Homo sapiens: one gene and its partner. The protein of the gene in region 2 purifies or fractionates together with the protein of the main gene of each other region. This does not show direct contact. Each region holds a gene or a part of one and is shown on either strand. Other genes may lie near its edges.

Region 1 (3,500 bases), on a different chromosome or scaffold from region 2:
GTATAGGTGTACCATTTTTTTTCTTGTATACCTTTTATTACTGTACCTTTTTCTATGTTGAGATATGCTTAGATACACAAATACCACTGTTTTACAATTGCCTGCAGTATTCAGTGCAGTAACACAATGTACAGGTTTGTAGCCTTGGAGCAGTAGGCCAAACCACCTAACGTGGGTGTGTACAAGTAGGCCAGGCCATCTAGGTTTGTGTAAGTACACTCTGCGATGTTCACATAAGGATGAAATCATCTAAGAACACATTTCTCAGAACATATCCCTGTCCTTAAGCGATGCATGACTGTGTGTGTTTCTTCACTCTATAGTTAATCATTTTCACGTGCATTTCTTTTGTTTTGTTTCTTACAACAATGTGGTGAGACAATCAGAGCATCTCTTGATTCTTCCATCTTATAAGTGAATAAACTGAATCTGAGAAAGGTTAAGTGGCTTTAGTCACATTAAATAGTTATTTCTCCTACACCATTGTTAACACATGTAAGTTTTGTATAGTTAAGTTTTGTTTTTCCTGAAAAGATTATCTGATGCATTCTGAATATTACCAGGATGCTGAGTTTTAATATCTCTTGTGCCAGCAGTAGCAAGTAAGAATTTTTGTTTTGTATAACTTTGCTTATGTGAAAGCCTTCTGTGCCTGGATCTCTTCTGAATATATGTGAATTGCTATTATGTGCTAAGTCAAATTTTGGGGACTTGCAGCTATAGAATAAGGGCTTTATGCTATAGATTTACATCCTATTGTCTTTTTTTAGAAGGCTTCTCAACCTTGTAGCTATAGTTACTCATCCTAAATTCCAGGAAGCTTCTAGAAACAGTGGAGACTTTGCAGGCTGTCCTCAGCATCTCCCTGCCTCTGTTTACGACTTACCCTTTCATCTTTTCAGAGTGCCCATGCCCAGAGAACATGATCCCCAACTTGCCTCAGACCCTGTTCTGTTCTAGGGAGTAAATCTAATTGCAAGATTTTTAGGCTTATTAAGAAACATTTGAGATTTGAAGCCCTTTAAATTATATCATTTATCATTGTCTAGAGCCTCGGATTTCACCATGAGGCTTTTGGTTAAGATTTAAATAGGTCTAGTAACTGTGCAAGCTAGGGCAATTTAGTTAACCTCTCTGTGATTAAGTTCCTGTTTGTAAAATTAGAATAATAATGCCATCAACCTCATAGAGTTATTAGGATTAGGTGAAGCACTTAGCATAGTGCCTGTCCTATAGTAATCTATCTTATTAACTATTACGTATTTTTAAAAAAAGAACCAGTGCTGGTTTGGAAATTCAGTAACTATCTGAGGAAGATAAAAGATGGATTTATATTTTAAAAATGAATAGAACCTAGATTGTGTTCTTAAGGCAACTCTAGATTTAGGTACAAATTCATCTTGCTAGGGAAGCCTGAAGTGATACCATAGTACCACTTGCTGGTGTGGATGGCTCTCTGACTCTCTGGTAGCCATTCATCCCACATGCCCAGTTACTGTTTATAGTCCTAGAAATGCAGATTCCTTCCACGTGAGGCTTACAGTTGAGCATAGCCTCCCAAATACCACATGCAGTTCGTGAACATGAGCACTTGTAGAATATTGTGTAATATCTTTTAGATTAATGTTTTGAGACTTTTTTTTTCTTTTGAAGTCCTAGAAGGGCAGTAGTGTTTCTTTGCCTTTAAAGAATATTTGGGGCTGGGTGCGATAGCTTATACCAGTAATCTCAGCACTTTAGGAGGCTGAGGCGGGAGAATCATTGGAACTCAGGAGTTCCAAACCAGCCTGGGCAATGTAGCAAGATCTCATCTCTACTAAAAATAAAAAAATTTGCCAGGCGTGGTGGCATGTGCCTGTAGTCTCTGCTACTCGGGAGGCTGAGGTGGGATGATCACTTGAGCTGAGTGATAGAGGCTACAGTGAGCTATGATTGTACCACCGCATGCACTCTAGCCTGGGTAAAAGAGCAAGACCCTGTCTCAAAAAATAAAATAAAGATGTTTGGGCTTTTGAGTTAAGAAAGCTGTGGAATTTAAGTTCACAGTGTTTATGTGATATTTATGTTAGGTGGACGGTATACTTGTAAAAAAAGAATTTAGGAGCAAATAATCGAATTATTTAAATAAAACTCAAAGCAAACTCCTTCCCCAAAAAGATGTTCATCAGATGTTAGCTACCATCCTCTGTTATCTACCAAAAATGATTAATTTGGCATAGATTACAAATTAACAAATTACACCATCACACACCTGGGTTTGATTTTCTTTTCCCAGAACTGACCAAATACATTAGCAGCTTGCTCTGCCAAGAACAAAATAAATACACTGGATTTTACAGTAGTTAAATACTTTACTAGAAAACAAGTTATTCAGTATCATATCAAGCAGTGCAATGATACTCATGTTTTTTACAGATAGACTATGTTTCAAATAATAGGAAATGTAACCTGTTTTACCAGGAAATTGGGCTTTCTGAAAATAAACAAGCAGAATCTAGTCAGGAGCTAATGTTTTTAGCAAAGGAGGGAAATAAAATTACACCTTTGAAGCTTTGCTTAAGCTTCTTTTTGAATATTTTAAAAGTCCACCATTCTTTCTGGTCTAAGTCCGTGTGTATATGGACTAGCTCACAAGCCTGTGTTAGAGAGTTTAGTGTCGGGCGCGGTGGCTCATGCTTGTAATCCCAGCACTTTGGGAGGCTGAGGCGGGTGGATCACGAGGTCAGGAGTTCGAGACCAGCCTGGCCAACATGGTGAAACCCCATCTCTACTAAAAATACAAAAATTAGCTGAGCACGGAGGCGCACGCCTGTAATCCCAGCTACTCGGGAGGCTGAGGCAGGAGAATTGCTTCAACCTGGGAGGCAGAGGTTGCAGTGAGCCGAGATCGTGCCATTGCACTCCAGCCTGGGCGACAGGGCAAGACTCCGTCTCAAAAAAAAAAAAAAAAAAAAAAAAGAGTTTACTGTCAAAATATAGGGCATTAAACCAATGAACAGGATTTATTGGTTAATTCTTTGAAGGAATAAATAGTGCGATTAGCAATAAAAGTAGATATAACATAAAAGACAAGTTGGTAAAGGACAGTTTTCTAACAATGAGTTATTGTGAGGAATGAAGGGAGGCATTAGAAAGAATGGATAATAGTATATTTGCATATCTGCCTGGATGTCTTGGGATGGACTGTGTGACCTTTTTATTCTCTGATTACAAGTAAAAAGTTTGACCTCCTTTTTCTTAATGTTTGTCTTTTCTAGATTGTCAAAAGAGTGGGGAATGGTGAGGAAACGCCGATGATTGGAGACAAAGTTTATGTCCATTACAAAGGAAAATTGTCAAATGGAAAGAAGTTTGATTCCAGTCATGATAGAAATGAACCATTTGTCTTTAGTCTTGGCAAAGGTAAGAGGGTATTTTTTTGAGTTGTGTTTTACTTAGCTTTATTACTATTTGTAATATATAGGAGCAGAGGATTCTATCCTTTCTAAAAGTAAAGAAAT
Region 2 (3,500 bases):
GGAACTATTTTTGATATTTTACGGTAATTCCATTCTTCCCAATTTTCTGTAACAGTTTTATTTTCAACAGTAGGTTTAAATGAAGATGTTTTATTTCTGACTTCATTTTGACATTGAATCTAAATCTATGCTTCCCTTATGTTGAACCATTCAATTTTCTCTAATGTTCCCCTAAAGTTCAAACTTCGTATATTTCTTTTTACGTGGATTCACAAGCCATCTTGAATGAGTGGTTCATGCAAGGAAGCACAGACATACTTATAGACAACACTAAAAGTGTTGCAAGGTTTCCTGCAATAATTCCTGAAGGCGGTTCCACTGGTAGAGCTGATACAAGCATACTGCACAGAGAAACCTTAAAACCTCTAGAGAAGAAAGGATGGGGCTAGAAGGTCAACAGTAGTAGTAGCTAGCACAGCCAATTTGAAGGAATGTGAAAATATAGAACATATAACTTTTTTCTTGTTGCTTGGCTGGGAAGTAAGTGTCAGCAAGCTATCATAAATGGCAACACTGAAAAAGTGGGGGCAAGAGAAGAAAAGCAGAAGACTTAGGTCAAAATAAAACAATAATTTCCTTCCAATCGCTCAAGCCAAAACCCTTTAAGTCATTCATGACTCTTCCATTCTTTCATACCCCACATCTAATGTATCAGCAAATCTCATTTGATTCTACTTTCAAAATATATCCAGAATATATCCTACACAAACTGATCTCATTTCCTATCCTACTACATCAATCACATATCCTTTACTCCTTCCACTAAAACCACAGTGGTTTCCTTGCTGTTTTCTGTTTCTTTTTTTGAGACAGAGTCTCACGCTGCTGCCCAGGTTGGAGTGCGGTGGCATCATCTTGGCTCACTGCAAGCTCCACCTCCTGGGTTCAAGTAATTCTCCTGCCTCAGCCTCCAGAGTAGCTGGGACTACAGGCGGATGTCATCACGCCTGGCTAATTTTTGTATTTTTAGTAGAGGTGAGGTTTCACCATGTTGGCCAGGCTGGTCTCGAACTCCTGACCTCAAGTGATCCGCCCACCTCGACCTCCCAAAGTGCCGTGCTTGCTGTTTTCTGAACACACCAAACACATTTCAAGTTAGGGCCTCTGTATTTGCTATTTAATACCATTCCTGAAAATGCTCCTCTTCCACATATCCACATAACTAATTTCCCACTTCATTCAAGTCACTATTTAAATGTCACCTTATTTTACCAATCTTATCTAAAAGAGTACTCCCTAGTCACTCTGTCCTTATCTTATTCTCCATCTTAATATTTACCACCTAACGTGCCATGTATTACTTGTACATCTGTTTATTGACTGTCCCTCCCCACCCCACACTTCCTCCAACTAGAAGATAAGGTCCATGAGAAGGGGGGCTTTTTGTTGTTATTCAGGACACCCTAGCTCCTAGAACAGGGCCTGTATGTGCAGGGTACTCAACATTTGTTGAATGAACAAATGAGTGAAAATAGTATCAAAACAGGACTCAGAAAATATAACAAAGGGTAAAGAGTACACGTATTTTGCTTTGGTAAAGAAATGGGACCTGGAACACTGAATAAGAAAAAAGAGAATTCCAAACTCATGAAAACTTTATGGGGATCTCAAGTCAACAGACACTGTCCAAGCTCTTCAGAAATGAAACTAATTCTGAATTGGTTATGGAAAAATGTGATTATGAAGTACAAAGGTGGCAGAAAAGTTGAGTTTTGACTACGAAATAAGGCATGAAATAAACTGTTGTAAGAGAAGATTTTGGTTAACCATCTATATCAATTTTTTTTTAGAAGAGATTTAGCTGAAATAAAAGGCAAAGACAAGCTCTGAAAATGGACTTAGTAAATTATCTGAATGCCATCATGTAGTCACAGACAATGTTCCAAGTGTGGAAACGAGGGCACAGTGGAAAAGAAGGTGGAATGTAAGCACAGAAGTAAAATCTAAGAAAAAGAAACTGCCCAAGAATGTGCTAGAATAAAAGGGAGACTGAAATAGTTGGGGTAGCTTTAAAGGCCTAAAGTGAAAAATTAAACAAAAACAACTAAGCTGACAACATCAATCCAAAGGCATATCAGAAAGGCACAGGCTTCAGAAAACATGGAAGAAGAACAAAGATTTCAAGCCTGATGGGAGAGAAAAGGGAAAGGAAAACAGGAGTAAACTGTCACTCAGAAACACAGAGTGGGAAGACAGCTCCTACTAAAGAAACAAGAGAGGGTAGGCCTACTTCAGGGCAAACGGCTTTAAATAGTATCAGAGGAAAGACAGATGGATAAAGAACATTTAAGAAAATTAGGTAGGAGAAAAATTTAAACTAGAATGTCAGATAAGCCAACATGTAGAATGACAGAAGCAAAAGGGAGAAGAAAGTCTCGAATGTTCAAGCATATTCTCAAAAATGGCAGAGGCCCAGTGCGATGGCTCATACCTGTAATCCCAGCACTTTTTTTTTTTTTTTTTTGAGACAGGCTCTCGCTGTCACCCAGGCTGGATGAAGTGCAGTGGTGCAATCACAGCTCACTGCAACCTCTACCTCCCAGGCTCAAGCGATCCTCCCACCTCAGCCCCTCAAGAAGCTGGGACTACAGACATGTGCCACCATGCCTGGTTAATTTTTGTATTGTTTTTAGAGATGGGTTTCACCACGTTGCCCCCTGGTCTGGAACTCCTGGGCTCAAGCAAATCCGCCCACCCTGGCCTCCCAAAGTGCTAGGATTACAGGCATGAGCCAGCACTTTGGGAGACCAAGGCAGGAGGATCATTTGAGGCCAACAGTTCTAGACCAGCCTAGACAACATAACGAGATCCCGTCTCTACAAAAAAATTTAAGAAATTATCCAGGTGTGGTGACACATGCCTGTAGTCCCAGCTACTACGGAGACTCAAGTGGGAGGATTGTTTGAGCCCAGGAGCTGGAGGCTGCAGTAAGCCATAATTGCACCACTGCACTCCAGCCTGGGCATGTTAGGCCCTGTCCTTTAAAAAAAAAAAAAAAAAAGCGTAAAATATGCCAAAATTAGTTAAGTAGAAATATGTATAAAGTTACAGATATGAATGAACTAAATCAAAGGTCTGTTGATTTTGTCACCAGCTCTATGACCTTGAAGAAGTTAATCTCTCTGGGACTTTTTTCTCTTAAAAAAATGTTATTTCTTCTCTTTTAAAAAAAAATGTGTAAATGCAGGAAAAGTGGTTAGGTAAAAAAATGGGTGATCATTCTAAGCCCTTTTTTCTCCAGTTTATCGGAGGGGAATGAGACAGGGAAAGCACAGAATTCTTAAAAGAATCAGAAAGATAGCAAATTTTTTAAATGGGAGAAGTAATAGTTAAGAACAGTTCTGCATAGCGCTTTACCATCTAAAAGGTGCTTTACATGAAACATTATATGTTCACCTCACAACAAGCCTGAGAAGCTAAAAACACAGGTATCACTGAACACCATTTTATAAACGGAGCAACTGACGACTCAAGAAATTAAGAAACTGGACTAAGGATAC

Evidence for each region.
Region 1: the proteins of EGLN1 (region 2) and FKBP5 purify together in Homo sapiens (affinity purification with mass spectrometry; 2 studies listed by BioGRID and IntAct, with this or other methods). This does not show direct contact.

Annotation. Positions count from the first base shown.
Region 1 is NC_000006.12:35,636,916-35,640,415, reverse strand, and holds part of FKBP5 (peptidyl-prolyl cis-trans isomerase FKBP5), read left to right. Parts: intron 1-3,257; coding exon 3,258-3,402; intron 3,403-3,500. UniProt on the Homo sapiens protein: Immunophilin protein with PPIase and co-chaperone activities. Component of unligated steroid receptors heterocomplexes through interaction with heat-shock protein 90 (HSP90).
Region 2 is NC_000001.11:231,412,288-231,415,787, forward strand, and holds part of EGLN1 (egl nine homolog 1), read right to left. Parts: intron 1-3,500. UniProt on the Homo sapiens protein: Cellular oxygen sensor that catalyzes, under normoxic conditions, the post-translational formation of 4-hydroxyproline in hypoxia-inducible factor (HIF) alpha proteins.